Linked DNA regions of Homo sapiens. The protein of the gene in region 2 purifies or fractionates together with the protein of the main gene of each other region. This does not show direct contact. Each region holds a gene or a part of one and is shown on either strand. Other genes may lie near its edges.

Evidence for each region.
Region 1: the proteins of PPP2R1B (region 2) and STRN3 purify together in Homo sapiens (co-immunoprecipitation; 5 studies listed by BioGRID and IntAct, with this or other methods). This does not show direct contact.
Region 3: the proteins of PPP2R1B (region 2) and STRN purify together in Homo sapiens (affinity purification with mass spectrometry; 5 studies listed by BioGRID and IntAct, with this or other methods). This does not show direct contact.

The regions. Positions count from the first base shown.
Region 1 is NC_000014.9:30,909,509-30,919,975, reverse strand, and holds part of STRN3 (striatin-3), read left to right. Parts: intron 1-869; coding exon 870-1,010; intron 1,011-6,318; coding exon 6,319-6,452; intron 6,453-7,793; coding exon 7,794-7,969; intron 7,970-8,151; coding exon 8,152-8,199; intron 8,200-8,813; coding exon 8,814-8,935; intron 8,936-10,467. UniProt on the Homo sapiens protein: Calmodulin-binding scaffolding protein which is the center of the striatin-interacting phosphatase and kinase (STRIPAK) complexes.
Region 2 is NC_000011.10:111,761,752-111,772,987, forward strand, and holds the start of PPP2R1B (serine/threonine-protein phosphatase 2A 65 kDa regulatory subunit A beta isoform), read right to left. Parts: upstream 4,639-11,236; 5' UTR 4,611-4,638; coding exon 4,497-4,610; intron 3,634-4,496; coding exon 3,543-3,633; intron 3,155-3,542; coding exon 3,054-3,154; intron 1-3,053. UniProt on the Homo sapiens protein: The PR65 subunit of protein phosphatase 2A serves as a scaffolding molecule to coordinate the assembly of the catalytic subunit and a variable regulatory B subunit.
Region 3 is NC_000002.12:36,844,507-36,854,973, forward strand, and holds part of STRN (striatin), read right to left. Parts: intron 6,602-10,467; coding exon 6,494-6,601; intron 5,295-6,493; coding exon 5,208-5,294; intron 5,120-5,207; coding exon 4,950-5,119; 3' UTR 1-4,949. UniProt on the Homo sapiens protein: Calmodulin-binding scaffolding protein which is the center of the striatin-interacting phosphatase and kinase (STRIPAK) complexes.

The DNA.
Region 1 (10,467 bases), on a different chromosome or scaffold from region 2:
AGCATTGTCTTTTCAAAGTTTTTTTCTGACATTCTTAAAACTTATTTTCTTTCAAAATATATGGTTCAAAATAAATAATTCTGCTATTTCTAAAGTTCAGAGTTAAAGAATATTCCACAATGGTACAGAAGCTTTTGAGTTTTATATATTTTGGCCTGAATTATCCAGGCAACAGCCAAAATTCTTCCCTTATATTTATGGCTTATGACAGTGCTGACTTTTCATATCATTATGAGAAACTCAGAGATCTATCTCATGGATAAATCAGGTTTTTCAAATTTGGGAAAAATGAAAAAATTTTTGAAAGAAATTGGGGTTGATTTGTTAATGACAAATTTGTACTAACATGGCAGGAAAATATCCATGGAAACACCAGGTAAAGTTAATTGTTTGTTGCACCCTCATAAAAATTACTCGTACTTATTCCTTTGTTAAGTTTTTAAAACAGTGAATTATGTTGAAAAGCCCTTGTTTTATTCTTTACACTGGTAAATGTTAACCTTAAACACCAAAATTTTCCTTTGTTTTAATGATACCTTCTGTGTCTGTGAGCTTACAGAACTTTAAAGAACTCTCTAAAGTATTCTGTGGAGATATATATATATATATATATCTCTTTAGAGAGAGACATATATGTAATATAGATATGTATCTTTATATATATCTCTCTCTCCACAGAAATAGTAAATATTTAAACTCAATGTGTTTTGGGGGATGGTATGGAAAATGGAAGACATCTTTAATTTTCTGATATTTTAATAACTGGGACTTCTTAATAGTCTGTTTTGTTAATAAATTGGTTTTAAAGGCTGCCGGAAAGTCAAGCGGTAGCCATTAAATGAACCTCTACTGCTGACATTAATTTACAGGGGCCAACAGGACAAAACTCTACGACATGATAGCTGATCTGGGAGATGATGAGCTGCCCCACATCCCTTCAGGAATCATTAATCAGTCTAGGTCAGCCTCTACTAGAATGACTGATCATGAAGGTGCAAGAGCAGAGGAAGGTACAAAATTTAGCTACCATGTTTATTTACATTTCAGAAGACCTTAAATCCAAATCACATCTTAATGCAACTAGGCTACTGTTATAAAATGCTGATGATCATTTTATATGATCTTTAGAGAAGGTGTTGGGCAAGCTCTTGATGTAACTAATTTAGGGATTTTGACATTTCTGGTTTCTATTTCTTTATATTTTGTTTTTGTTTTTAATGTGAGGAGTTGTTGTTTCCATCATAGGTGAATTCAGAGTCTTTTCTTAAATCTAATTTTAGCTACAGATCCAGTAATGGGAAAATAGTAATTTATAAAAACAAACTTAAAATAATACATATGGAAAAAACTACTCATTTTGTCTTATTGCTTAAATTTAGGAACTAATAGTAATTACCACTTACTAGAAGACAACTATGGTGCCAGGCATTGTGCTTGGAACCTTTTTTTTTTTCTTTTTTTTTCCTTGAGACAGAGTCTCACTCTGTCTCCCAGGCTGGAGTGCAGTGGCATGATCTCGGCTCACTGCAACCTCCGCCTCCTGGGGTCAAGCGAGTCTCCTGCCTCAGCCTCCCAAGTAGCTGGGACTATAGGCGCACACCACCATTCCCCGGCCAATTTTTTGTATTTTTAGTAGAGACAGAATATTACCATGTTGGCCAGGCTGGTCTCGAACTCCTGACCTCAAGTGATCTGCCTACCTTGGCTCCCAAGGCGCTGGGATTACAGGTGTGAGCCACAGTGCCCAATCTGTTACATTAAATATATATTACTTCAAAAAATATATGTAACTGTTACCTAAATTAATCATTTGAGAATAAGGCAGCATCATTATTCTTTAACTTGGTAGCAAGTATACGCTACCTAGTAATGAATTTTATAAAATTTGCCTAAACCAGAAATGTGTAGGAAATGAAAGTACTACTTAAACATTTTTTCCAAAATTGATTTTAGCCGAAGATATATGGGTATACTTGAATCATGTATAACTCTAAGTCTAGATATTTATAAGTATTAAATCTGAATTTTTAACCAAAGATTATTGTGACATATGAGATACAGTAATTTGGCATATGTATTAAGTTTAATTGATGTTATTGCCTTTGCTCTGTAAAGGGGATTTGTTTGATGTCCCAGTCAAAAAATTTTAAATACATCTTGTTCCCTTTTAAGATTTCCCTAGTGGCACAGTTTCCTTACAGTTAAATAATTTTGCATTTTTTCCCTCTCATAATTTACCATTTACTTCACTCACCTTAAAAAAAATCACTAAAGTAACAAAATCATTCAAAACAAAATGAATGAAAAATAAAATAGTGTCTGTTAATTTTTTCAGATCTCATTTCCACTATTGAGATATATTCCTGTTTTACTTTAGAAGTATTTTCTAAAATACACATAGCAACTCCTTTTTTTTTTTTTAATTTTATGCATTTAGTGGTGATTTTGCTTCGTTTTTGGTCTGTTTTGCCAAATATGCATAGTACAACTTGCTAAAATTTTTGTAATTAATGTACATTTAAAGTGCAGGTTTTGCAATTTAAGGCAAAGCCACGTTAGCAATGTGGACCCTTTTAAATGTTTCAAACCAATGACTTAACGGAAAAAGCCAGTCAAGGCACACTCTACACAAAAACCAACTTAGAACTCTCTATGTGTGTTTGTTTATGTGTTATGTGTGTGTTTTAAAGAAAGAATATAGGTCAGTGATCTGTTTCTTGATGCTGGTAGGAGGGCGAGGGGAGAGATTTGATAAGTGTGAACTTCATTACAGTTTTTGAAGTATCGATCTTCCTGGAATTTGTTATTTAAAGAGGTGTGAGTTTGACTTCAAGCTAAGAAGGCAGCTTTGGAGTATACAGTCTCCTTATTTTCAGTGGCAGTCCCCAACTTCCTTCTTTACTTTTGAAGTCCATGTCCTACCTCATTTTATAAAGAACAAATGTCTGTTTTCTAGGAGTGGAACTTCAACATTACAATCTTCTAGACTATTGCTGCTAAAGACTTGAGACCTACCATGTTGCCACTGGTATAAATGGAATCTGTTACCTGGACTAAGTTCTTGGGAAAAAGAGTTCAATATGCGAGCTACAGGTTTCCTTCATCATAAGTGTCCATCAAAAGGAAGATTAGTTACAAAAGTCTGAAAAAGACCTTGTATTTTATAGACCCGTTATACTAGTATTGTTATCTTACTTGATGAAATCTCTTAGGCCTCCTAAATTTCCATCATTAAATTAAAAACTAGGGCAGGCATAGTAGCTCATGCCTGTAATTCCAGCACTTTGGGAGCCCAAGGCAGGAGGATCACTTGAGCCCAGGAATTCAAGACCAGCCTGGGCAACATAGCAAACTCTGTCTCTATTAGAAAAAAAAAGAAGATATTAAAACTACTTTTTTTAGGCCGGGCGCGGTGGCTCACACCTGTAATCCCAGCACTTTGGGAGGCCGAGACTGGTGGATCACGAGGTCAGGAGATCGAGACCATCCTGGCTAACACGGTGAAACCCTGTCTCTACTAAAAATACAAAAAAATTAGCTGGGCGTGGTGGCGGGCGCCTGTAGTCCCAGCTATTCAGGAGGTTGAGGCAGGAGAATGGCGTGAACCTGGGAGGCAGAGCTTGCAGTGAGCCGAGATCGCGCCACTGCACTCCAGCCAGGGCGACAGAGCAAGACTTCAAAAAAAAAAAAAACCAAAAAAACTACTTGTTTAAATAATTACATTTTTCTTTGAATTACTAATGACATTTTTATATTATGGGTAATTATATTACCATTAATAAAATGAATAGGATAGAAATTAATTCCCTCTGCAGGGAAATAAGGGCAAACAGATGAGTAGCTGCTGTGATTACCATATGCCACAGTGATGGGTAATATGGAAAGCAGAGGTAGTAGTGTAAAAGAATTTTTGCACATATATGTGTAAATAGTGATTAAGCAGAATAGCTTGCAATAGGTACATAAATATGTCATAAAATATATGTGTGTATATAGAGAAAAAGGACAGAAATGTGGTCATATGATTAATTAGAAATGAGTATAATACTAATTTTTTGTTAAGTACAATTAAGCCAAAACTCGAGTAAAACTAATGTCCAGACACTTCCCTTCACATGCTCCTAAATTGGTCTGGCTGATCAGAGATAGTCTTGCAAAATCATTTGTTACGTTAAAGTTATTTTATTGGGCTTTTGAGATTTGTGTCAGTGAATGTTTGTATAATTGTGAGTGGGAGGAACTGTGGCATTTTGTTCTGACTTCTCTTAGAAACAAATTCCCTGAGCTTAAAGTAAAAATATTTCTTTGTCTAGAGAAAAATGCTTTGAGTAAATATTATATAATGACTTTTATATAATTATCCTTAAACATAAGTTTAAATTATTGATTTTATAGTTTTTAGCTGCTTCTGGTATTGCCAATAACTGCATACTAATAATTGGTAGGAAAAGATCAAAAGATCAATGCTACAGATTATTCAGATTCAATAAGTGTCATCATTGAAAGATTAAATACTACTTAATATCTCTATATATTTTCTGTCAGGTGCTTTCAGATTCATTTTAGATCAAGTAACTGAATCAGAGCTGCATTTTAGAGCCCTATTTGAGTCAGATTATATAGCTTATTTTGATAGGATAAAATAATAAAATAACAAGATATTCTAAGTACAGTTGAATTTTATTTTGCCATAGTATATATATGAATTGTGTCTTCTCAGAATTATTTCCAGTAGTTTAGTGATGACTGTCAAGTTTCATTACACCTGTTGTGTTTCCTGTAGCATATTTATATCATTTTTCATGGGAATTTTTTTAAAATTGATAATCAGCTTGATTTTTTGTATAATGTGTCCCTTTTAAATTTGCTCATGAATTTTAAGTGTGTTTTGATATATTGAGTTTTATATTATGATTTGAGTATTTCTCCCTTGTTATCTTAATGTTAAAATTTTGCTTTCAAAGCATATTTGAAATGATATTGAAGGTTGTTGCTTAAACTATGACTGTTACAACAAAATATTTAGATAATAGTCATTCAATTATGGCAGAGTTTAATTGGTCAGTAGTATGTATAGAAAGGAAAACGCATTTTAAATAATTGGAACTGTTAATATTAACATGAAAAGCTGTAATAATGCACATGATATAGTTGAGAAAACTAAGTGAAGCTCAACCTGAGTTTAGTTTGAAATTGAAATGGCAAATCTGATCAGAAATTAAAGCTCTGTGGTCAAGATTACTTGCTTCATTTTAGAGTGTCATGGTAACTAGAATGGGACATTAAAATAAAAGTCATAGTCAAAGCTTTAAAGCTGGAAGACAGGCTGGGCGCGGTGGCTCACGCCTGTAATCCCAGCACTTTGGGAGGCCGAGGCAGGTGGATCACTTGAGGTCAGGAGTCAAGACCAGCCTGGCCAACATGGTGAAAGCCCATCTCTACTAAAAACAGAAAAATTAGCCGGGCGTGGTGGCGGGCGCCTGTAATCCCAGCTACTTGGGAGACCGAGACAGGAGAATTGCTTGAACCTAGGAGGTGGAGGTTGCAGTGAACCGAGATCGCACCACTGCACTCCAGCCTGGGCGACAGAGCAAGACTGTGTCTCTAAATAAATAAATAAATAAAGCTGGAAGACATTCTGAAGACCACGTGGATTAACCTTTTATAGAAAGGAAACTGACATTGTTGGTGGAAGAATTTTTTCCTAGACCATTGCTGTTACTAAAGGAATCTGAACAATTAAAGCTTCATTCTAGTGAACTGATATAGTATATAGCTGACTGTAAACCATTTACATTTCAATGTTTGTACTAGTTTTTATCAGGGACTAGGATGCCTAGTACTTCTTTAGAAAGCAAAAGGACTTGGTGACAACCTATTAACATTTAAAAAATACTATATGACTACTTTGAGGTCCTTGAGGTCCATGGTAGAGGTTTCCCCTCATGAATGCAAAAATCTGATATTTAACTCCATTATTTAATCAAAATTTGTCCTATTTCTTATTTAACATGTAAACTATAGTTATAATTGTACTGAAGTGATAAGAGATTTAGACAGACAAAGCTTTTGTGCCCTAGCTTCCACCCCAGAATAATATATCTAGTGCACATTTTATTTGTGGACAGTTAATACACCACAGTTCCAACACATTTGTTTAACACTGCTTAGTAACAGGATTTTTTGAGTAGAAGTGGGAAAATAAAAATTAATTATATTACTGAATATTGTAACTGTTAAGTGCTTAAATTTTCCCCACAATATTGTCTTGTACTGTATGATTTTTCAGCATTTAAGAAGCGGTTTTGTTCTTTATAGCTGAACCAATAACGTTTCCATCTGGAGGAGGCAAGTCATTTATTATGGGTTCTGATGATGTTTTGTTAAGTGTACTGGGCCTTGGAGACCTTGCAGACTTGACGGTAACAAATGATGCAGACTATAGTTATGATGTAAGTGCAGTTTTATTTTTAATTTTTTAATGATTTAATAGAAGGCTCCTTATTTTTTGGAATCACTTATAAAACAGAATTAATATCAAGGTGCATGGAAAAGATAAGTTTGTGTCAATGTGTTGATTTGAAGTGACATGTTTTTCTTTTATAACTACTCTCTTTGTGGTATTTAAATTTTTTTTTTAGGTATTTTGGTGGATTAACTAGAAGTTTGAGATGATTAATATATTGGTCAGTAAATACATCTTGAGTAGTCAACTCTCAATTATCTCAAATTAAGCCATATTTTGGTGTTAACAAGAAAAAAAATAACCTGAATCATATATTTGCCTTCAGAGTACTTCTTAAAAAGCATGTTTTATTTTTGAACTTTTATTTTCTTAAGGAAATATTTTAAAGTTTCTGAACATTTTAAAGTTAGCTTGCATCATTTCCTGAATACTTAACTCCTTCATTAGAGGATTGGGGAGTGGATGGAAGGGTTGGGGAGTGGGGAGTCCAGTGTTAGAGGTGAAACTTGTCTTGGATTTAATTTTTTCTAGTCATTAATATTTCAATTGAGAGTTAACTATACTTGTTAGATCTTTATGTTAATTGCAGTTTTTCAGCAATTTTTTTTTCTTTTTATAATGAGTTTCTTTTTTCCACGTTTTATACTTAACATTAGCATGCTTAGAGACAGCCTTTGGTGGGCTGGATTATTCTCATTAATATATTTTTTTAAGTATATAAGTGACTAAATTCCAGTAAACTTTTGACTGCTTTAGAAGTGGTTTCACAGCCTATCTTTACAGATGGAGAAATGTGAAGGTAAAAAGATAAACCTCTGTCAATATCAAGAATTATGAAAATGGGATAAAAATATTCTTAAAGGGTCTTTAGTTCAGACTTTCAGAAAGTACCTTAACTTGCTGCCTTTAATAATTTCACATGCTAATACGTTTTCTAAATGACAACTTTACTGTTAATACTGTACCGTTGGATATTTGTAATAACTTATGTAATTATTTTTCATGTAAAGTATTGCAGCAATGGTAGTTATTTTGTTCTCATCTGACATTTAATGGGAGCTTTGGGTTTAGCTTAATAGGTAAAAACAGATTAAGGAACTCTTCATTTGACCTAGGCTATTTGTAAGGCGAATGAAATTATTCTGAGTTATTATTAAATGATAAAGTTTTTTTAGAAAGTTTTAAAGGTACATTAAATTTCCACTGGACATTTTAGCCAACAGTTTTAAATATATGTGTTAAACACACCAAAAAGAAACGAACAAACACTCCACATGCCTTCCAGTTTACTACTTTTACCACTAAATATTGTGCTCTTTCCTTTTAGTTGCCTGCTAATAAAGATGCCTTTCGAAAGACATGGAATCCCAAGTATACACTACGTAGCCATTTTGATGGAGTACGGGCATTAGCTTTTCATCCTGTAGAACCTGTGCTGGTTACTGCTTCTGAGGACCATACCCTGAAACTTTGGAACCTGCAAAAAACAGTTCCTGCCAAAAAGCAAGTATTTTAGTGTTAGCCTGGTGTATTTCTTCCAATTTTGCTAATATAAGTAATTATTCCTCATTATTGTTGCATGTCTTTAATGCACACATTTGATCTAATGACTATTTAATATCAACCAGTGATTCATAGTTATTTAATTGCCTTCTCTTCCCCTACCCTTTTTCCCCCTCTTTTAGGAGTGCCTCTTTAGATGTAGAGCCTATCTACACATTTAGGGCCCACATGTAAGTTTTACTGAATTGGTATTTAATTAACATCATCATTATTGTTAAATATTATTTATCGGTCCTCAAACCTTGTAATTTTCTCAATGTTTTGTATTAGAAAAGATGTATTACTTGAATAATAGCTATTTAATAATTGTATTGGTGAGACTATGAATATAATAGTACCATTCAGGCCAGATGCAGTAGTTCATGCCTGTAATCTGAGGATTTTCGGAGGCTGAGGCGGGCAGATCACTTGAGGTCAGGAGTTCGAGACCAGCCTGGCCAACATGGTGAAACTCCGTCTCTACCACAAAATACAAAAATTAGCTGGGCATGTTGGCGTGCGCTTGTAGTCTCAGCAACTCAGTAGGCTGAGGCAGGAGAATCGCTCGAACCTGGGAGGTGGAGGTTTTACTGAGCAGAGATCACCACTGCATTCCAGTCTGGGCTGGTGACAGAGTGAGACCCTGTCTCCAAAAAAAAAAAAAAAAAAAAAGTACCAGTCAGGTGTACATGTTCTCTTAAAACAGTTTTTAGATATTACATAAATTCAGAGGTTGGGGGAATGGAGATTTGAGTTTCTTCTTAGAATTTATCAGTAATTTGTTTTTCCTCTCTTCCTACAATAGCGGCCCTGTTCTGTCATTAGCTATTAGTTCTAATGGAGAACAGTGTTTTAGTGGTGGTATTGATGCAACCATCCAGTGGTGGAATATGCCGAGTCCCAGTGTAGATCCATATGATACATATGGTAAGTAAAATGATCAAAATGTATTTTTTTTAAGTGAATGGAGCTGACAAAAGTAAATACCTCAAATATGATTACAAGGTTATTTAAACCTATATTAGTCACCTCATTTAGTTCTTCCATTTGCTAATAAATTGCTTTATTAAAGAGAAAAATTAGGAAATGTCATGCCATGGGTATTTAAGCCTATGAATTGATACTTTCTCTGTTGTTTAAAAAACTATATTAATTAAAATGTTAATTTAGGTAGTAGTTACAAAAAGAAGGAGGAAACAAAATGTAATCTAAGTAACAAAATTTTGAACTTAAGAAATAGTTTATATATTTTAAAAATATTAAGCAAAAGACAATGGAACCAACATCAGGGGTATAAATCATTAAAACTTTTTGGAGCCAAAAATTTTTTTTGTTATTCTTAGCTCATATCTACAAAAACATTCTTAATTTCAAAATGGAAGAAAAAAAAAAAGAAAGGAAACCTCCTTTGACTTGCAAATGTAGCTTTTAGAAATCTGTTCTACAGAAACACCTACCTGTACCTGTGTTCAAATATATTTGTAAGGGCACTGTTAATAATTATAAAACGTTAAAACAAAATGTTTATGAACTCTTTGTTCTTTTTATTTAACACACACATTGTGCCTACATTAGCTAGGCATTGTGGTAAGCACTATGTCAAGAAATAAGATTTAGACTAATGGAAAGTAGAGACATAAAACAGATAAGCGAAGGGATGGGATCTATGGTTACAAATTGTGATAAATGATAAGAAGATAGAGTACTGTTGAGAGGGCGTAACAGGCAGAACCTTCTCTAGAAGAGTTAGTCAAGAAAGGTCTTTCTAAAATAGTGACATTCAAGCCAAAATCTGAAGGATAAGAGGAAACTTTCAGTAAAGAGTTTTAAGCCAGAAAGTTATCTGATAAATGTAAGGTTTTAAAAAGGTGACTGTGTCTGTTGTGAGAAGAATAAATTGGGGGCGAGAAGAGTGGAAAGAGAAATACCAGTTAGGAGGCTGCTGTCATAAAGTAGTCCAGTAAACTAGGTGACAAACGACATTGCCAAGATTAGAGTGGTGGTAGCACAGCATTTAGAAGTGGTTTTAAGATACGCTGAGGGAGTGTGGTAGAATAGACAGGATTTATTGATAAATTATGTTGAGTAGATAAAGTGATGGGTGAGTGACTCTTAATTTGTATGTGTTTAACTGCTTTACTGAGATAATTTACATATCACAAAATTCACCCTTTTAAAGTATACAGTTCAGGCTGGACACAATGGTCCATGCCTGTAATCCCACCACTTTGGGAGGCCGAAGTGGGTGGATCACTTGAGGCCAGGAGTTCAAGACCAGCCTGGGCAACACAGTGAGACCTCATGTCTGCCAAAAATTTAAAGATTTGCCAGATGGGGTGTCACATGCCTATAGTCCCAGACACTCGGGAGGCTGAGCTGGGAGGATCACTTGAGTGTGAGAAGTAAAGGCTGTAGTGAGCTATGATGGTGCCAGTGTACTCCAGCCTGGGAAGAGAGTG
Region 2 (11,236 bases):
AGCTCGAGACCAGCCTGGCCAACATGGTGGAACCCTGTCTCTACAAAAAATACAAAAATTAGCCAGACATGGTGGCACACGCCTGTAAACCCAGCTTACTCAGGAGGCTGAGGCATGAGAATCACTTGAACCCGGGAGGCAGAGGTTGCAGTGAGCCGAGATTGTGCCACTGTACTTGAGCCTGGGTGACAGAGTGAGGCTCTTGTCTCAAAAAAAAAAGGTAAAGTACAGAGATGGTAGGACACCTTGCTTACAGCTTTAGAAATAAAAGAAGCCAAATGGGGTGGATGGTCTGGATTAAGAGCAGTAACTGAATATGGCATGGCCTAGTAAAAAGTGTAAACAGGCTGGCTCTCTGAACCTCTGCCTTACTGAGTTTGCATGTAGTCCAGGTAGATTCTACACATGCCATGAGCTACAGATTTTAAAGCATAAAACCCACATATAGAACTAACCAAGAGTGAAACAGAAGCATAATGAGTTAAAGAAAAGAAGTGTGTCTAATAATATATTTTAAAAATTGTTTGATACACACAGGTAGACAGTATTCAGCTTTCCTAGAAGGTATTTCAGAAACTCATTGAAAAGATACTGTTTCTCACTTGCCAATGCATTTCATGATCTGTCCCCTGCCTACTGTAACCCCCTCTCGTGCAGTACCACTGGATAATAGCTATCATTACTACAGGATGAGGCCATGCTCCTGAGAATTGCTTATGAGTGGTCTCTTGATTTGAACTCTGCCTGGCCCTTGATGACCACTCTGCCTACCCAGCCTCAACACTTCACACTCCAGCAGTTCTTTTTTTTTTTTTTTTTTAAGAGACAGGGTCTTGCTCTGTTGCCCAGGCTGAAGTGCAGTGGCACAATCATGGCTCAGTGCGGCCTCAGACTCCTCGTCCTTCTGCCTCAGCGTCCCGAATAGCTAGGACTCAGACACATGACATCATGCCCAGCTATTTTTTTTTAAGTGTTGGGGTCTCACTATGTTGCCCAGGCTGATCTTGAACTCCTGGCCTCAAGCAATCCTCCTGCTGCTTTGGCCTCCCAAGGCAAGGATTACAGGTGTGAGCCACCACACCCAGCCACACTCCGGCAGTTTTGAACCCAGCCTGTTTCATGCTTCCAAGCCTCTGAAACTCATTTTTTCAATACATTATTATTGGTATATTCTAGCATTGAGGACACAGAAGAAACAAGGCAGACAAGGTTCCTCACTCTAGTGGCATTTACATTCTAATGGAGTAAGACAACAATCAATCAAGAAAATAAGTAGATGGTGATGAGTACTCTATAGAAAAAAGGAGTAGGATGATGTAGTAAGGGATGACTGTGAGGCTATTTTAAGTTGAGTGGTTGGGGAAAACCTCCCTGAGGAGATGCATTGAAGTTGATCCCTGAATGACAAGGAGCCAGCCACAGAAAGCTTGAAAGAGCTTTTCATTAGAGGGAAGACCTAGGGCAAAGGTCCTAAGGGAATAATGAGCTTGGTTAGTTCAAAAAACAGAAAGATGACCAATGTGAATGGAAGAGGTTATCAAGGCCTTTTGCAGTCTGTTCCCTGCCTACTGTCACCTCTTCTCATGCAGTACCACTGGGCATATGATAATCCTACAGAGGCGGGTCATAAAAAGCCTTGTAAGCTAAGGTACAGAATTTGGATTTTCTAAGAGCTATAGCAGAGAGTGAGCCATCTGCTGGGTGATGTGAACTGTAAGAGTCGGGTGAGAGGCAAGAGTGGAAAGCATTGCTAGGAAGCTACTACAGCAATCTAGAGGAAAGATGACAGTCTGGACTAGGCTGGTAATAGGAGGGATGGAAGAAAGTGGACTTATTTGAAATATACGTAGACTCTATAGGAATTACTAATGGATTAGATGTGTGGAACAAGGCACAGAGGATTCAAGAATACATTCTAGGTTTTGGCTTGTGCAAGTGGGAAGATAGTGATACCATTTACTGAAGTGGAACAACTAAATGAGAGGTGTATTTGGGGGATAAAGCTAAGTTTTGTTTTGGGTATGTTAAGTTTGAAATACCTGTTTGACATACAAGTAGAAAAAAGCATAGGCCTATATACATAGACAGAAAAAAAACTCTCTCTCTCTCTCTCTCTCTATATATATATATTCATACTTATCTATTAATCAATCTACCTCAGGAGTTCCATGGAAAAGTCAGAACTAGAGACAGAAATCACAAGAATCAGTATTACATACCCAGTATTCAAAGCTCTGACACATACACCCCTACCTTGTCCAACTGTTGAATTCCTGGTCATCCTTTAAAACCTAGTTCAGACATCATCTCCCAAGGTCTTCCCTGATCACCCGGAGTGAATCCCTTTCTCCCTTCTATTACGTGGGTATTTTGTGGGTACTTATATCTTTCCATTTACGACTGCACGGTAATTATTTGCTGACACATAAAGGCAGTGACCTCATTAGATTCATTTTGGTGGTCTTTTTTTTTTTTTAAGAGATGGGGGTCTCACTATGTTGCCCAGGCTGGATTCAAACTCCTGGGCTCAAGTGATCCTCCAGTCTCAGCCTCCTGAGTAGCTGGTACTACAGGCTTGTGCCACCAAGCCCCCTCACATTGGTCTTCTTCAACATTAACATTGTAAACTATGATGTGTCTGATAAAGTAGACTCTCAATAAATGTCAATTAAATTGAACTAAATTCATCAAACTCACAAAGTCAGAAGCAAAAGTTAAACTGACAAAGACAAAATGCTGCTAGGTGAGAATTAAAACTTCCACCATCGCGCGGGGGAACCATAAAAACAATCAAACCCTTTTTCTCCCTACATCTAAACTAATAAGTCTACAGACGCAGAAAAGGAGGACGAAGTTCTCTTATTTACAGAAAAAAAAAAAAGGAGTTGAGTGCAAAGTGCCTACAGTACTTATTCTCTCAATGACTAACATTATGACTATCTGCCCATAAAAAGATCTGCATAAAAAATGCTGCAGTGTGTCTATCACCAAACAATGTATCATTTATACTGCAAAAGTTGTAGAAGGAGGGTAGGCAGCTTATAAATACTCACCAGCAGACAGTGGGCAAAGTCAGGACCTCCCACTAGGCCAGTGAAATTTCCCAGCTGCTCAGCAAGAGCTAATAGTACCTCATCTTCATCATAAATTGTATCTGGAAGTGACAACAACAGGACTCATCAACATGGATAGCTCTCCCACAGCTGGACACTGACACAAAACTAGGAACAGATTCACTATGCGACCAGGAAGGTGACCCAGTCAAAATCCTAACAGCATTTTCTTTCTTCTCAACCGTCTTCCTGTATCTGCTTTGCACAACGAATTAGAAATTCATACTCCCGTATCAATTACTTTCAATAGCTAAATGGTTGATGTTTGAATATATCTAGCCACAACTAACAATATACTCTGTTCTGTTTCTTTTGCACAAAAAACACCTGGCTCATTTTAATGTGGGTAATAAACTCTAAAAAAGTCAGTGTTGAAAGCTACTGGAAAATGGAATGTCCCTACCTTTCTTTAAACAAAGATTCACATACCTGTAAGAAATGGCAACAATTCACTTCGGGTCCTTTCTACTCCAAGTGCTAGGGCAATTGTTGATAACTTCTTAATACTGTTGAGTCGGAGCTTCAGAAAAGAAAGTAGAAAGAAGAACAATGTAAAGAAACGGCTGAATTTAGATCAAAAGACAAAAGGTGCTAACAGGTGAAATTATGACACAGGGGTAAGAATGAAGATAACCTTTCATTTAGATTTTACTGTTAAGGAAGCTCATAAGGACTTCCAAAAAGAAGTGTAACTCGGCCTCACTAGCCGGCGGAGGATTTCCCAGGAGAAACACTCAGAAGGGACCGGAAGAGAAATGAAGGAAAGACAATACAACACCTAGGAAGTAAGATAATTTTAAAAAGAGAGCACTTTGGCAGTGGTGAAGCAGGTGAAACGGTTGAATACAACACCTGTGGTTTCAAAGAAAAGTTCCCACAGAGCGGATACACTACTCGTCCAGATTAATCGGCCATCCCACCCCCGCTTTCTACCCAACAAGCCGAGCCAGTTCCAAGCCGAGATGAAGGGATCCAGGGGCACTTCAAAGGGCTTCTGGGCATCCTGCGCCCCTCAGCCGCTCCAGCCCCGTCTCGGCCTGGCACCGCGCTTCTCCTGCTCCCTCGCCCAAGAGACGCGGCCACCTCACGGCCCGGATGGGGCGCCCAGGCGGGAAGCGGGTTCCCCGACAACCGCCCGGGAAGGGCAAGGCTCCGGGCGGACGCCTCAGGGGGTCCGAAGCAAGGTTACTAGAGAGGTACCCGGGAGGGTCGGGGCGTGTCACCACAGCCCCTCGCGGAGCATTCCCCGCCTCCCCTTCAAGTTTCTGCTACGAGTCCGACTCATTCAGTACCTCGGCCACCCCCACCGCGACGCAGGCCTTCCCCCTTCTCTACCACGCGACCAGCCGGTCTCGCCTCGGGTCCCCGGCCTCAGTCCAGTACCTGCACGTCTTCATTGCGGAGCTCGTCGATTAAAACCGCGATCGGGTATAGCGAATCATCTCCATCTCCACCCGCTGCTCCTGGGCCGGTCCCGAGCTCTGATGCGCCCGCCATGTTCTTTCTCCTCCTGCTGCTGGTCACCGCCTCCCGCCCCGCGCCCAGGCCCCGCCCCGCGCCCAGGCAGTAGGGACGAAGGCCGCCACGCTGGTTTAGCCGAAGTTGGGGAGCCGCGTTTCTGTCCCGATGATTAAGGCTCCCTTCTGACCCCCACTGCAGGAGTTGTAGGTCTGAACTCAAGAAGACGGGTGGGCTAAGAAAGCGAATGGAACCCCTGCGTCCTTTCCCCAGCCGAAAGAAACAGGGACAGGGATTCATCCAGCTCGTTGTAGTCTGAAGGAGCCAGGAACCTACCTGAATGATCTGCGCTGTGCCCTCTTAAGACTCAGGCGGACCAAAGAGAGTGCCCGAGGCCAGGAGGAAAAAGGCTTTAGCACCTCCCCTGACTTCTTCCTGGCCCTGAGCCACTGGATCTCCAGCCCTAATTTCTCCGCTCAGACTCAAACTTCCACAGAACCCCTCCACCTCTTCCCGCGGCTCTTTCTCCAGAATGGTATCTGGCTCCTGCTCCGTAAGACAAATAACGCGGGCGGTGAGAGAAAATGAACAGTGCTGTCCAAACTCCCCAGTCAATATTTTTTCCACGCAAGCTGTTAAAAACATGCTGCTCTCTTGTTTTTGTGTTTCTTTTCAGTTTGGTACTGGAATGGTGCCTTCTGTTGTATTTTCTTCCTCCCATTTTTTAGCTCTTTAGCATGCTAGAAGTACAACAATGAAGCAAAACTAGGACAAGCTTTAATCCTTCCAAATTGGGTGGGGTGGCTACTTTCTTGAGCAAGAAAACCCAAACTGGCCTCCCTAGACCTCCAAGAGTCCTCAGAGGCAGCAAGGGGAAGAGGTGGAGGTCTGGGAGCTCGTTCTTACAAACCTGAATGGAAAGTTTTCACTTACCCCTGTCAGGGTAGCACAGAATAATTAGAATGTTTTGTTTGTTTTAGACTGGAATTTAAGCAGCTTGGAGTGATAACTACATATGGTGATCACAAGCTCCGAAATGGTAATTCTATGTGCCTGATTAATAAAACTATAAATGCAGTGTAGGAGACAAACTTTTTTAAAACATGGGATTCTGAGGCCGAGGCGGGCGGATCACTTGAGGCCAGGAGTTCGAGACCAGCCTGGCCAACTTGGTGAAACCCTGTCTCCACTAAAAAATACAAAAATTAGCTGGGCTGGTGACGGGAGCCTGTAGTCCCAGCTACTCGGGAGGCTGACATGAGAATCGCTTGAGCCCGGGAGGCAGAGGTTGCAGTGAGCCAGGATCGCACCACTGTACTCCAATCTGGGCGGCAGAGTGAGACCCCGTCTCTAAAATAAATAAATAAATAAATAGCGTTCTTGGAAGTAAGCACAATAGAGCCTTTGAATGAATGAATGAAATAATGAATAAATAAATAAATAAATAAATAAATAAATAAATAAATAAATGGGGTTCTTGGAAGTAAGCACAATAGCTAGAGCCTTTGATAGTAATGAAAGTTTGGGAACCAGCAGACCTGAACAGTTTTTCTCAAATTATGTCTGCGAATGTATTCTCTAGGGTTTTAATTTTATTTTCATTTTCATATTTTTTAGATTTGTATAAGCATATTCTGAATTATTTGGGTGACCACCTTACAACCAAGTATTGCCACACAATTTCAGCACCCACATTTACATGTGTGTTTTAGTGCTGCTTTTATTGTTCTGGGATAATGAGAAAAGAACAGAGGTGGTTTTAAAATGACAATGATACTTTCATGCACAAAATGAAAGCCAAATGCATCATGAGATTGCACTATTTGGTAGTTGTAACAGAAAAATGGTGAGAAAATTAAGATATCAGGAGTCACTTGGTGGCATAGGCATGTTGAACACAAAAGAAGCTGAGCTATAGCAGGCAACACCATAGTAACAATACGACGGATGACAGTTTTAGCAAAATACATCATTTGTCACGTTAAATTACTATAATATTTTTAATTGAATAGTATTCATTTTGTGGTTTCATTTGTATTTAATTTGTAAATTTGTTGTGGTTTTTTTTTAGCTGTGTAAGAACTAGAAATAAAAGCACATTTTTCCTACTTTATATTCGTAAATTTAAATAACCACAGCATAATAAAAACAATTTAGCTAAACATGGTAACGCGTGCCTGTCTTCCCAGTTACTTGGGAGGCTGAGGTGGGAGGATCACTTGAGCCTAGGGGTTCATGACCATCCTAGACAACACAGCAAGACCCCCATCTCTAAAATAATAATAATAATGACTTAACTGAGAGTTTTCAGGATTTTAAAAAATTATTGTGTTGTGTGTGTGTGTGTGTGTGTTTAACAAACAGGGTCTTGCTGCGTTTCCCAGGCTGGAGTGCAGTGGCACAATCATAGCTCACTGTAACCTTAAACTCCTGGACTCAAGCAATCCTCCAGCCTCAGCCTCCTGAGTAGCTAGGACTATAGGCATGTGCCACCACATCCAGCTTCGTGTGTGTGTGTGCGTGTGTGTGTGTGTGTGTGTGTGTGTATGGAGACAGAGTCTCACCATGCTGCCCAGGCTAAAAATGGATTCATATATTTAATACTACCCAACTTGGAGAGACAGAGGGCTAAGAGGTTTTTTTAACTTAGTACTTTACCAGTTAGAAGATCAGAGGGGATTCCTGTAGGCATTGAGAGGAGGAATCTGTTTTCTTATACTTTATGTAAAAAGTCACCTGGGGCAGTGGTGCACATGATGGATCACTTGAGCTCACGGGTTCAAGACCAGCCATGGGCAGCATAGCAAAACCCCATCTCTAAAAAAAAAAAAAAAAAAACTTAGCAGGACGTGGTGGTGTGCACCTATAGTCCCAGCTACTCAGGAGGCTGAGGTGGGAGGATCACTTGAGCACATGAGGTTGAGGCTGCAGTGAGCTGAGGTCACACCACTGCGCTCCACCCTGGGTGAGAAAGCAAGACCCTGTCTCAAAAAAAAAAAAAAAAAAAGAGTCTTGGACAGGTGCAGTGGCTCACACCTGTAATCCCAGCACTTTGGGAGGCCGAGATAGGAGGATTGCTTAAGTCCAGGAGTTCAAGACCAGTCCTAGCAACATAGTGAGATCCCCATTCCTACAAATAAAACACAAAAATTAGCTGGGCCTGTAGTGCACGCCTAGTTTCAGCTACTCAGGAGGCTGAGGTGGGAGGATCACTTGAGCCTGGGAGGTTGAGGCTGCAGTGAGCTGTGACTGCCACTGCACTCCAGCCTAGGTGACAGAGTGAGACCCTGTCTCAAAAAAAAAAAAAATTAAAGTCTTCAGAAATAATAAAGGAAGCATGCACAGAGAGAAGCAGATTAAGTCAGTTCCACAGTACTGTTTTCGATATTAACTCAAGCTTAAGAGAGCCTTAATATGCTAACAAAAACTGGCACCTTGATGCTAAACTACTTTGTTTAAAATACAAATATGCTTTGCTTACCCAAGTACAATGAACTGGCGATTCAAGGAATAACTATGATTAAATATAAAATCACAAGCTGAGAAAATAGGCCCCAGAAAATTGCCTGGTTTGAGAGTCATCAATTTTGGACTTCAGTTCCCATCTCTGTCTCTGACTCATCATGACCTACCTCTCCCAGTGCCTCAATCCCACCTTCCACCCCCTAACACCCCATAAAATGGAGCTAACCACCTCTTGTTCCTGCTTGAGTTGCTGTGATGCTATGAGAATGAAACAGGTAATAAACATGGAGATGCTAATAAATCCTTCAATGAAGGTGATTAAAACAGACTGCAGCAGAAAAAAAGGCTAGTTCAAAACCTGAGCCAAATTCTGAGGCTGACCGTCTGAATCACTTAAGATGCCTGTTAAAAATGCAGATTTCTGGCCTCCAACCCAGACCTACTGAATTAGAGTCCTTAAGAATGGGGCCAGATGGTTTACAGTGTCCACTGGGTGATTCTAGTGTGCATTGATACTTGAAAACCATTGATTTTAAAAGTTCATCTGGAAAAGTAATTTCCATGTCAATAAACAAGCATCTGCTCAGGTAGAGTCTGAAAGTCTTTGGAGGCCACCCGTGTCCAGAAGAAATCAAATGACTTATCAATAAGCAATTCTGAATCTATAGGCTGTGGGTTTTGCCAGATTCAAAAGATGGTCCCACAGCCTGAGCAACAAAGCAAGACCCTGTCTCTACCAGAAAAAAAAAAGAAAAAGAAAGAAAATAGCAGAGTCCGCTGGCACACCTGTAGGCCCAGCTGCTTAGGAGGCTGAGGTGAGATGATCACTTGAGCCCAGGTGTTCGAGGCTACAGTGAGCTATGATCACATCACTACATTCCAGCCTGGGAATAGAGCCAGACCCTGTCTCTAAAAAATAAATAAATAAAATAAAAAGGATTGTCCCTCTTTTGCTGGACTTCTGGAATTTAGCCAAGCACTACCAATACAGTACTGTGGCACTGAGGTATTTCCATATCCTGTCTCTATTCCTCCCTCAGGTCTCCTCTCCACTTCCCACACACACCCCACAAGAAACTAATAACCAGGGAATGCCAGAGGCAACAGCTGAGATTAGGTTGAGGATTTAAGGCAGCCCTCAGGTAACAAGGTGACAGCCTCAGTACAAAAGCACTGAGTTCTGACACCCACATGCAGTTCACTCATCCAGTGTGGATCAAAGGAAGACTGAGTTAGATTTGCCCGGTTCCTATAAGACAAAGCATCAAGAATATAGGAAGTACAGGCAGATGGGATCGACGGCCATCAACTCTTGCTCACATTAACAGCTCTCAAAGTCACATCAGAAAACCATCAGTCATTGGCCGGGCGTGGTGGCTCATGCCTGTAATCCCAGCACTGTGGGAGGCCGAGGAGGGTGGATCACCTGAGGTCAGGAGTTTGAGGCCAGCCTGGCCAACATAGTGAAACCCTGTCTCTACTAAAAATGCAAAAATTAGCCAGGTGTGGTGGTGCATGCCTGTAATCCCAGATACTCAGGAGGCTGAGGCAGGAGAATCGCTTGAACCCAGGAGGCAGATGTTGTGGTGAGCCGAGATAGCGCCACTGGGAAAAAGAAAAGCATCAGTCATGAGGATCGAAGTGACATCACTGTCATCTTCTCTGGCCCCTTGCCTCAAGTTTACTAAACTTGCGTCTCCCTTACAGCCAAAGAGCTTTACAAATAGGTTCTCATTCAAATGCTGATCTGCTCCACAGTCACCCCACTGTGTGAGAAGGCCAAGTGTAGGAGACCTGTAAGTGTCTCAGGGCAGATTCAGACTGTTGTCCCCCTGAAAGGGACATCAAGGGAGTGGTGGATGACAGGGGCGGGAAACCTGAGGCACACGGAAGCATTTTCCAACTGTCTTCATTTGGCAAGATGACCCTGGTAAACTGATTCCGAGGGCTGTACTTAATTCATCGCAAAGTAGTGATTATCACCATAGCATTAATGATATTTTAAATTTGTATTTATGCAAAGTATGTCACCATTCTGTGGAACTCAAATATTTTCCCTTCAATTTCAGCTCAATATTTTAGCCTTCTTTTTCTTCTGTGTTTTCTTCATGGCAAATTTTTAATCTCATTTTTATGGGTGGGAATACCCCAACAAAGAGAAAGGGACTTTACCTGATGTCCCAATAAATCAGAAGCAGGTGCAGAACTCATAATCAGGGATTATTGCTACTCCCTCCTCCATCTCCTACCTCTGTTCTACAGCTCATCACCACATATAACAAAGGTATTGGATTTCCAAGGCAAACTTTGCTTGAATTCTTGGGAAGAGCAAATCAAAGAAATAGGACAGCCGGGCAAGGTGGTGAGGTGGCTCATGCCTGTAATCCCAGCACTTTGGGAAGTCCAGGTGGGCAGATCTCTGGAGCTCAGGAGTTTGAGACCAGCCTAGGCAACATGGTAAAACCTCATCTCTACAAAAAATACAAAAATTAGCCGGGCACAGAGGTGCCTGACTGTAGTACCAGTTATTTGGGAGGGTGAGGTGGGAGAATCGCTTGAGCCTGGGAGGCAGAGGCTGCAGTTAGCCATGATTGCACCACTGCACTCCAGCCTGGGCAATATAGCAAGAAAAAAGAAAAAGAAAGAGGACACTCAGTTACCTTTCACAATAGTACATACAATGGTTAGGAGAGTATACTCTGGAGTCAGGAAGATGTAGATTGAAATCCCACCTCTACCAATTACTAGCTGTGTGACTTTGGGCAAATAACCTATCCTCTCTGAATCTTGGTTTCTACATTTATACGGTGGGGCTGTTGAGCTTACCTCATGTGGTTGTTAAAAAGATTAAATAATTCATATAAAGTGCATAGGTAGTGCCTGGCAAGAGAAAGCACTCAAATACTATCCATTAACAGTTTTTATCTACTGAGGAAGTGGGAGCAAATAGGAAAATATTGCAATCAATTGAACTTTGGCAACAGAAAGGACCCACATGAAAGAATGAAAGAGGTACATGACTTACAGAGTCAGAATACCTGTTCCAGAAGATTTTTTTCATCGGTAAAATAGAGCTTTTACCTCTCAGACTTGTGAGGAGTGAGAGTCATGATGAAAGGTGCTTTGTTAGTGGAAAGCACCATGCAGATGTTAGAAGTTGTGTTATTTAGGCCGGGTGCGGTGGCTCACGCCTGTAATCT
Region 3 (10,467 bases), on a different chromosome or scaffold from region 2:
TTTGAAAATTTGCATCAGAGAGATGACAAGCATGTGGTCCTGGTTAAATTAAATCTAAAGCTTGGATTAGCAAAGATCCAGAAAATTCTGACCCCCTAAGCACCACTTTAGGAATACCGCCAGAATCAATGAGTGGGATCTAGGGATCTGTTTGGCCTAACATTTGTTTTTTTTAGAATTAAAAAAACAAAACAAAAACTGAAAGGATCTGTTAAATACTTTGTCAACCTGGCATCCCTGACACTGACATGAAGATCCAGTTGGATGATGGATATTGCCAATTAAAAAGTTTGTAGTGGCAAAAGTAAAAATGATTCAAATTGACGAATGACCTGTCCTTTGTTTTTAAACACAGATACGTTTTTCTGGGCCTTTCTCTAAAATGAACTTTAGGGCTTGATACATTTCACAAAAATATACATATTTTTCGTCAGCTACTACTTTGTATACAACCTGAATCCCAGTGTCCAACACTTAAAAGTACTGCAATTATATAAATTACTAAACAAGTTAACAGTAATGGAGAGGCAACTTCTGAGTAAATAAAATGAATGATTATGTACTTAATAGCCTTGTAGTCACTTTCAAAGAATAAAGTAATCTAAATAAAATTATACTTAGCACTCTTTTTCATGTAAGTTCAATAATTATTTGGCTATTGGTTGAAAACATCACACAGACAGACACCAACCAAAGATTCATTATCTCCACTCGCTAAAAACATTGATGGTTAATTTTAAGCAATTCTTTCAAAGAAAAACAAAATTAATTCTAAGCCTTTCAGTCTGATTTGTGACATCTTAATACAATATAACTTAAATGACAAAGCCTGAGAAAAGCACCAACATAGATTTTTTTTTAATTGCATCCAACCATCATTTCAGATGTCATAAAGATTTGCTTCAGTTAAAATGGCAGCAATGACAAAGAGGTAGATATGAGAGATGCTTTTTAAATATTTTAAGACTATTCTTAGGTGGAATTTTAACTAGTTCAGGTATTTAACCTAAAAATATTTACTAGTTGAATCTTTACCACATAAGAACTTCATGACATGCTGTTTTGTAAGAGGGAAATATATGAAGTATTAAAAAGTGAGCCTTTAAAAAATTACATTTACTTAGCCAACATTAATGAGATCCCATAATTTTGGTGAACAAATAATTTCTCCTTCTACCTGAACTTTACTATAATTAAAGAATAGCTATTGTTTTCTCTACTGAAATTTCTAGGAATTCACATTCAAAATTCTTGGAAAGTATATATGGTGCTCAGAAGAGCACAAAGCGCATGAAATGTCCCCTGAAGTCCTAGAAGTTGAGCAGATACATTAAAAAGACATTGATGGTCACAAATCAGGACCTTCACAGATTGGTAAACACACACACACACACACACACGCATGCATGCACACACACACACACACACACACACACACACACACACTAACTCTCTCTCTCTCTCTGTGCCCCCCCTCCCACCCCCTCCCCAAACTCAATCTTCATCCTCACTGTAAGGCTGCATTTTTTTTTTTAAAGGCACCTCTCATTTTCTAGCTATTGCCTTCTTGATGATATTTGTTTTTGTTAAAAAGTCTGAATGTTCAATGGAAATAGTTCAGTACTGAGAATAAAATATTTTTCAATTCACATTTGAATAGCCAGGTTTTCTTACATTCAGATTTTAATACACTAGAATGACAGTCTTTAAAACAAGCATGCTAGCCTATAATGAATATTGTATATACAGTAATTTAAACACTTAGAACTATATATTATACTGCAAAAGCAAACAGCACAACACTCATCATACTCATCATTATCTGCTGTGTATACTACCTCCAAAAATGAAAATACAAAACAGTAAAATGCACCTATGGTTTATATATATATATATATATATATATATATATATATATATATAGTTTATATATTATATATATTCTTACAATATATATAATATATATTTATAAAATATACATACATTTTAGACATTTTCAAATAAATCTTCATCATTATCTCCAAAAGAAATTTATAGCAAGAATACTGAAGGAATGAAAGTCAGATTAAAAAAAAAATTTCTCACAAAGTTCATCATCAGTGATGCAGCTCAATTTCCCCCGTTTTAGTCATAACTAAAATGATTATAAAAGCGAAATATTTTGCATAACTAAGTATTTGTTTAATGGCAAAAGTTGTTAAACTTGTTCAATAGAAAAATACTGAAGGTCATTATATCACTTTTGTTAAATAATCTGTCTATGGTTTGAGTAGCAAATGAGCTCCATATGACAGTTGAGTTTTGAGAAGGGTGCTGCAAGCTCCCAGAGATGTATCCACAGCATATGAAAATAAGGCAGGGATCCAAACCTCCCGCTAATTTTCATACTATTCCAATACATTTCAAACAAAATATTTACAAATGAAGCACTATGAAAGCATTTCAATGGCTGTTTAAACATTGAATTTGTTCATTCTGTGAATTTTCATTGAATGTTCAACAGGCTAGGGGAAAAGTCAGACACATGTATATGCTACTCTGGTTGGAAGACAGCTTTGGCTCATTTCTAGGCTGAGATCATGCAGTGCTGGTAGAGAAGACTCTCTCCGTAGTCTCCAATGCCACAGCACTGGCTTTCTAAGGAACTTTCAACAGTTCCATTTGCGCTACAGTCTATGTATCTCATGGTTATTTTCCACTCACTGACAGAAAAATTTCAACCATGAAGCATAAAATGAACGGGGGAAGAATGTCCTGGTTTTTAGAATTTCAGTGACATTAATAAAGCAGTAACTGAAGATCTTAGAAGGTAATTAATAACTGGTAGAACAATAGCTTTGTGGTCATCCATCATAAATACACCAAGTAATGGCATCTTCCTTCCTTCCTTCCTGGAAGGAATTTTCCAGTATCCTTCTACAAATGTTAGGTTAGAAACATTCTTTCTTCACTGTGAAGAACCAAAAGAAATTTACTGAACACAATATGGAATTCTGTATCTGCATGGAAATATTAAGTATTCACCTGACAGCTCATGTTTAGGTCAATTCATTTAATTACACAAAGCAGTCTCTTGAGCCTGCTTGTTAACCAAAGCACAAAGATGAAATGAAAAGGTAGCTGTATTACTACAGCATATCTGTATGAAAATCAGGCAAATTTAGCACAAGTCTCTAGCTTTAAAGAAAATTTGCCTGTATAATGCAGAATTCTAGAGGCAAACAGGCAGAAATTTTACAGAAATATTTGTCAATCATTAGCCACACCACCACCAGAATACTTTTTCAAGGAGTAGATGTACGTATCATGAGAAGCATCATTGTTATGACGATGGAAAATGTGGGGAATGGAATATGTAGAAATTGTTTTAATTGGTTAAAATATCTATAGATTTAATATTTTTAAAATCTAAGAGCCTATTTATATGTTTTTTGGTGGAAAGTTGGACGTTAATAATTTATTTCCAATTTCTAGATTGGTCTCTGTCATTTGGGACAAAGAGTAAGAGAGACATAAACCACTATAGAAATAATGTCTTTATGACAGGAGACTAGGTCTAGATAGCAGGGTCTTCAGAATCCCAAAAGGTGAACACATGTAGGTGGGTCACAGGTAAGTTGGGCTGGGGAAGCCTGGCCTTTTAAGGTGTGGATTTCCCCAGAAACAATACTGATCCACTGCCCATTAAAACATGTATATCTCAATTAAACAATGGGGGAGGAATAGGGAGAGAGAAAGACAGAACTTTTTAGCCAATATTTGGCATTAAACTCTTTCATCCAGGTTTCCAGGAGATTCTTACAGGGATTAATAGAGGACTTCTAGGGTACAAAATATTTGTTTTTATTAGTGCTTCTGCAAAAGCAGCTGCGTGAAGTTAACCATACTCTTTGGGCTATTAATAATTATGAACTGTTCTTGGTAGATGTCAGATAACTTGAACGTGACAAAGAAGAAAGAGCACAGATCATCTGAAGCATGATTAGGTGGGTGTTGATAAATGATTATTAGCAAATAAATTCTATCTTTTCAGTCACTGAAAAGTAAGATTTCATTGGTATGAAATAATCACTCTGGTACTATAAATGTCACATGAATAAAGTGAATTTTAAAATAGAAATTATTAAAGAGATATGCCCTGTTTACCCTTAAAAATAAACAGAATTTCAAACCTGAATAAGTTAAATCTGTTAGTAAAAGCAGAGTCGATCAACTATTCTTCACAATGGTGAGTGCTTGATAGCTAAACTTTAGAATGATACCAAATCTGTTTTCAAAACTGTAATACAATATAGAAATCTGCTTGCAAACTATTTGTCTAGCATTTCTGAATAATAATATATTTAACATATTATTGCATTTTTCTCCCCCTAACAGGTAAAATGCTTTGCCAGGTGCTTTATGTGAACAGCTGAAAGGAGAGTCAAATTAAAAACTCAGTTTAACACTGCCTGGTCATTATACACAAAGGGGTTAATATGGCAGATATGATAAAGATTACTATTTTGACTACTTAATGTGTTTTAACAAGATTTCTCAGGGGAGAACTTGGTCTAAGTTTCCCGTTTTCTTCTATTCAGTCCCAGCTATCAAGCTTTTAAATTATCCATTGTAGCATGCCCTACTTACTCAACAGGGACAAGCTAAACTTGTATTCGCTCAGGCCTGCCTAGCGAATTAGAACCACCTCAGAAATAAAGGCGCCTATTGGGGAGAAATTTGAAACAGACCTCAGGCTCACAGATTCAGCTGAGCTTGCAGCAACCTGAACAAACCTTAGTTTTAGAAAACAGTATATGAATTGCAAAACTATACTTCAACAAATGTTCTCTGTGCTCCTTCAGCAGAACAAAAGGGCAGGACGAGATGATTCTTGCCCTCGTCTTCTGTATCTCTTGTGTGCAGTTGATTACTTATAAACAGCTAGAAGGTGAAGATGATGCATTGCGTCATACAAAGACTTTAGCCAGTGCGTCAGCTCCAGCACTGGCTATATAGCATTTGGATGGGTGGAAAGCTACATCATGAATCGATTCTTCAAACTTTTTTCGATGAGCTGTGAATTCTTGGATACACGTCTTACTTTCTAGATTCCATAAACGTATTGAACAGTCATGACCTATATCCAAAAAAAAAATTAAAAGGAAAAATTACATTAACATGAAAATGGTAAGGACAAATAAATAATCCATAGTTGAGGTACTTACTGCCAGACATCAAGTAAAGGCCATTGGGATCAACTGCTAAACTTGTAACAGCTTCTAGGTGGGCTACCATCGAGTGGATCAGTTTGCCTTTGGAAAAAGAGATTGTTACTCCTTATTAATGCCTTTCCTCATCTTCAATATTTGCCAGCTACCATGTCCTGCTGGTTTCTCCAGTCATCCCTCTCTGTGTGCTTACTGTATTAATAGCTTTTTCCATCACCTAAAACAACATGTCTCCCTCTTGCCTCTAGTCATGGCAATGATATGGAAAACCAAAAAAAGCTCAAATTTTAGATTACACTTTTGTCTTTTAAGCCACGATATGGAAGTCAGTAATTTCTACACGCAACCCTTAAGCCACGTTTGTTAATTAGAACTTAGACATTATTAATCACCTACTTTGCATTCTTTAGCTACTGGCAAATTATGAGTTGTGGAAACACAGAATTCAAATTCACAGAGAGAAAACAATGAGGCAAGGAAAAAGGGACAGAAAGAAAACATGGCCACAATTTTGGTGGATACAACATACAGAAAAAAATTTTAAATATTAAATGATTCATCACCAGCAGCTAAACAAAGTCAGCAGAAGTCAACATATTAACAAGGCAGATACTTAGGTAAATATGGCAGCTAATATAGGGTGCTTTCCTCCCAGCACAGTGCTTCCTAAATTTCCTTTATACTGGTGAAATGTAATAAAATAAAACTTGGGCAAATCTCCATGCACAATTCAAATCAATGAGGACCAACCAGTCAGTTTTATAATACAGAAAAGATTAGTCTATGGAAAAACGAATACAATGACCTGGAGGTTTTCCATCCGCAACACTAAAAAAGGCTATTTGGTAATGGAATAATTGAATATTGAATAATGCTATTCAATAACTGAACAACTTTAAACAAAATATAATGACCATATGCCTCTATTTCCAATGTTTCTACTTTTCCCCAATATATAATACTACAATAGATCATAGCAACAGATCATTTTTATTTGTATTTGAGTGAACTTTTCCTGGTGTCCCTAGTGATAACCTTGGCTCTAAAGCCTACATATAGCATCTGCTCACTATTAAATAAACCAAAATGATTCTGTATTGTATAATAAAGACTAGTCTTAGCAGATTTGGATAGAGTGAAGAGAAACTGAGACGGGAGAGTATTTGGGGTTCAGTGCCTATTCCCTGACTACGAAACCACCAAGAGACACCAAAATTAGCCTACTTGTGGTAGGGATTTTTTTTTTTTGCTTTAATAAAAATCAATTCTTAATAAATTCTTACCTGTATTGTTATCATAGAATTTGATGTGCCTGTCTTCATGAGCAGTGATGCTGATCGGAAGAGTAGGATGACTGATGACTCTATTTATTTGGCAGGAAGAGTTGGCTGCTAAAAAGAAAAAATTAAAAAGCAACACAACTTAGTCAAAGATATTTTTCACACAAAGGAGAACTGAATTATCTATCTAAGAGACTGAAAAAGTAGGCCGGCCGCGGTGGCTCACGCCTGTAATCCAAGCACGTTGGGAGGCCAAGGTGGGTGGATCACGAGGTCAGGAGATCGAGACCATCCTGGCCAACATGGTGAAACCCTGTCTCTATTAAAAATACAAAAATTAGCCGAGTGTGGTGGTGCGTGCCTGTAGTTCCAGCTACTCAGGAGGCTGAGGCAGGAAAATCACTTGAACCCGGGAGATGGAAGTTGCAGTGAGCCGAGATCGTGCCACTGCATTCCAGCCTAGGTGTCAGAGCGAGACTCCATTTCAAAAAAAGAAAAGAAAAAAGAAAAAGAAAAAGTAATAATGTGACTTTCATTATTTGTCTTTAGTTCATTTATTCTGTGACTGTTTTCAAAATTTCAATGTTAGGAAAGAGAATTGCCTGATAAATCTGGAAATATTTATAAATTACAATTTCCTGCTATATGTGGGTGCCATCTATGGCTTAGTCTAGAGCCACTAACGCTGTTCATTCTACAATGTTCTGTGAGATTTTGCTACTTTAAGTAAGTTCTATCATCACTTACATGGAGATAATTCTCAAATTTAAATCTCAGCTCTTTTTGCATACAAAGTTCTGTATCACATCATTATCATCTAAAGATATATATGACAAAGAGGGCTTCTTAATCCTTAAATCCCTTTATCACTCTTCCTCATCATAATAGAAATGGTCATTTGACAGAACTAGGTTTGGAATCCTAAAAGTCAGCATCCTAACTGTATTTTTTGTGTTAGTAAGTTCCAAAGAAACTTCAATTATACACACAATGAGACAGGCAAGCACATATCATTAAGCCTATATTACAGTGAACACATCAAGGTTCAGAAAAAGTTGTGACTCCTCCACAATCAGGTGACAAAATCAGTACCTATTCTAACTTCTGACTCTCTCCCAACCTGATGGTTCATGCAGATCACACAACTGTCAAAATTGGTTCCTAAATGATCACACATTCTTCCTGAAAGGCTTTTATTAAAAAGAAATCAGTAATTTAAAACCTCAGTGATTTCTGTTAAGCTTTTTTTAAGAGAAAAGAAAAACTGACATAAAGAAAACACTAATTGAAGGTATGTCAAAGTTTTAAAAATTAAATTATGGTCCAGGGAGAGGAAGGGGTGTCCTTGTAAAATATATTACTGGAACAACTCTCAAAATTTGAATATAAATAGTAATTCAGATAATAGTATTGTGTCAATGTTAAGTTTCCGGATTTTGATCATTGTAATACACTACATCAGAGAATGCCCTTGATCTTAGAATTACACGCTAAAGGATCTAGGGGAATAGGAGCATGACGTCTCTCATATGGTTCAGAATTAAAAATTATACACATATATAGAGTGAAAAAGCAAATGTGACAAAATGTTAAAAACTGCTAAATATGTGTGAAGGGTAGCCAGAAGTTCTCGTACTATTTTTGTACCTTTTCTGCAAGTTTAAAATTATTTCAAAATAGAGTTTAAAAAATTTTTTGAACCCTAGAATAGGTATTACAAGTTTATATTCACATAATAGAAAATACAGCTAAAAATAGTCTAATCTTACAGGATTTTCATGTGGCTCCTAGAAATATAACATCTTAAAAACTGAAGACAGTCTTTTCCCAATGCTAGTGGCAGGTAATTACCCAGCCTGTTATTTAAATATAAAATGTGGCTGGGCACGGTAGCTCACACCTGTAATCGCAGCACTTTAGGAGGCCGAGGCAGGCGGATCACTTGAGGTCAGGAGTTCGAGACCAGCCTGGCCAACATGGTGAAACTCTGTCTCTACGCAAAATACAAAAATGAACCAGATATGGTGGCACACGCCTGTGGTCCCAGCTACTTGGGAGGCTGAGGCAGGAGAATCGCTTGAGCCCAGGAGGTGGAGGTTGCAGTAAGCTGAGATCGCACCACTGCACTCCAGCCTGGGCAACAGAGCGAGACTCTGTCTCAAAAAAAAATAAATATAAAACAAAAACTCACTTGACCATGTGGAGTAAGTTCTTAGTCAGTTACACCTGGTTTAGATCCTAAACAAAGAGATGTTTATTTATAAAATTCAGACTACGCATTATTTCCTCCACAGATAATACTCCATTGAGCAACACCCGTGGTAAAGTCCAGCAAGAGAATAACAGTAACAACAAAAAAAGAAATACTTTAAGTGAAATATCCCATATATTCTGAGAGAGACGTTTCAGAGAATAGCCTCAATTGCTTTGAGAGCTAGAAAATAAATATGATTGAAATCAAATCATGGAAACAGGCAAAAGAAAGTTCTTATTTGGTAACACTTTTAAGGAAGCTTCTCCACTTGATGATAAATCAGAGAAGTCGGCAGAATGCAAAGAACACTACTCATACCTAGCTTGTGACGTATCTGCTTCAACTACCTTTGACTTTACCACAGTCAAATCGCCATTGACATCAATGAGAAGAAGGGTAATTTATTCCTATTCTAACAAACATCCTTCATCACTTTAAACTCTATATAAAACTCACTTTCTCCTTGAAGCTTGTTTGGTCCTTTCATTTTTTTAAAAAAATATGCTAAATTCCAAAACAGAACAACACAATCAATTATAAATAACAAGGGGTAGTTCACAGTAAAACATAATAAGAGACTAATTTAAGTTTTCTTTATACAACTTTAAAAGTAAAAAACATAATTTAGAAAATGTCAGGACATATTACAACTCAAAATAATGATCATTTATTCCAGTAATGTTGCCTTTGTTAAAAACATTCTTGGAAGTTTTCTCAAAATGTTTCCAGTGTCAAGTAAAAAGTCCTATTAATTTAGAGTCACATCTCTTGGGGGAAAATGTGGATTCACTCGCCTAGTTCTCTTTATCCATCTTATCTACCAGACTTGACATCTTATTAACCTGCAGTCATTAAAAAGCACTATTTCCACTCAGGATGTTCACAAATTGGCCATATAATCTCTGAAGGTAATTACAAAAATGTTCTCATCCTTTCTAATTTCATATTAGTTTTTTATTTTGCTACTGTAGCTTTGAGTCATATATTTAAACATGATTTTAAATTTATTGAGAGTCTAAAACCTGTAATTTCTTGCTGAAAAAAATTCTCCTTTTCCAATTCTATCACCTGAGTTTAATTTATTTTCCTGTCTCTCTCGTTTACATCCAAGTAGCTCAAAGTTCTATTCATGCTTACTTCCCCAAACAAGTCTCAGCATATCAGAAGAAAACAATGAACAACAGGTTAGGAAGGGAAAATGATGAAAACCACAAAGGAATAAAGAAACTTTTTGAGAGAGAGAGAGACAGAGAGTGAGAACACCACAAGAACATATGTAAACATATGCATGTACATGTTCACACATGCATGTGCACACACACAACATATCATCACTTTTAAAGCTAGTTCTCAGATTAAAACAAGAGTATATGTATGTCGTATTCTTCATCAACTGCAACCTAAACTGTGATTGTCTAGATTATGGCTAACGACAGAAAGCAATGGTTAAGAAAGCCAAAAACCAAAAAAGAGTCTGTAATATCTTCTTCATAACCTGAAAAAGCACTTATTTCCTGACTTCCTGCATCCAATAAGAAGCTTCAGGTTTGGAATTCTGAGTGCCACAACATGATCTGTATTGAGCTGTACCAAATCATACTATTAATATAAAATTAAGTTGATTTAAAATATGAAATTACGAGAAATGAAAAATAGAATTTCCTATTCAGAATAAATATGGCTTTCTTCAAATAGAATTGAAAATTAATCATTTAGTATAAAA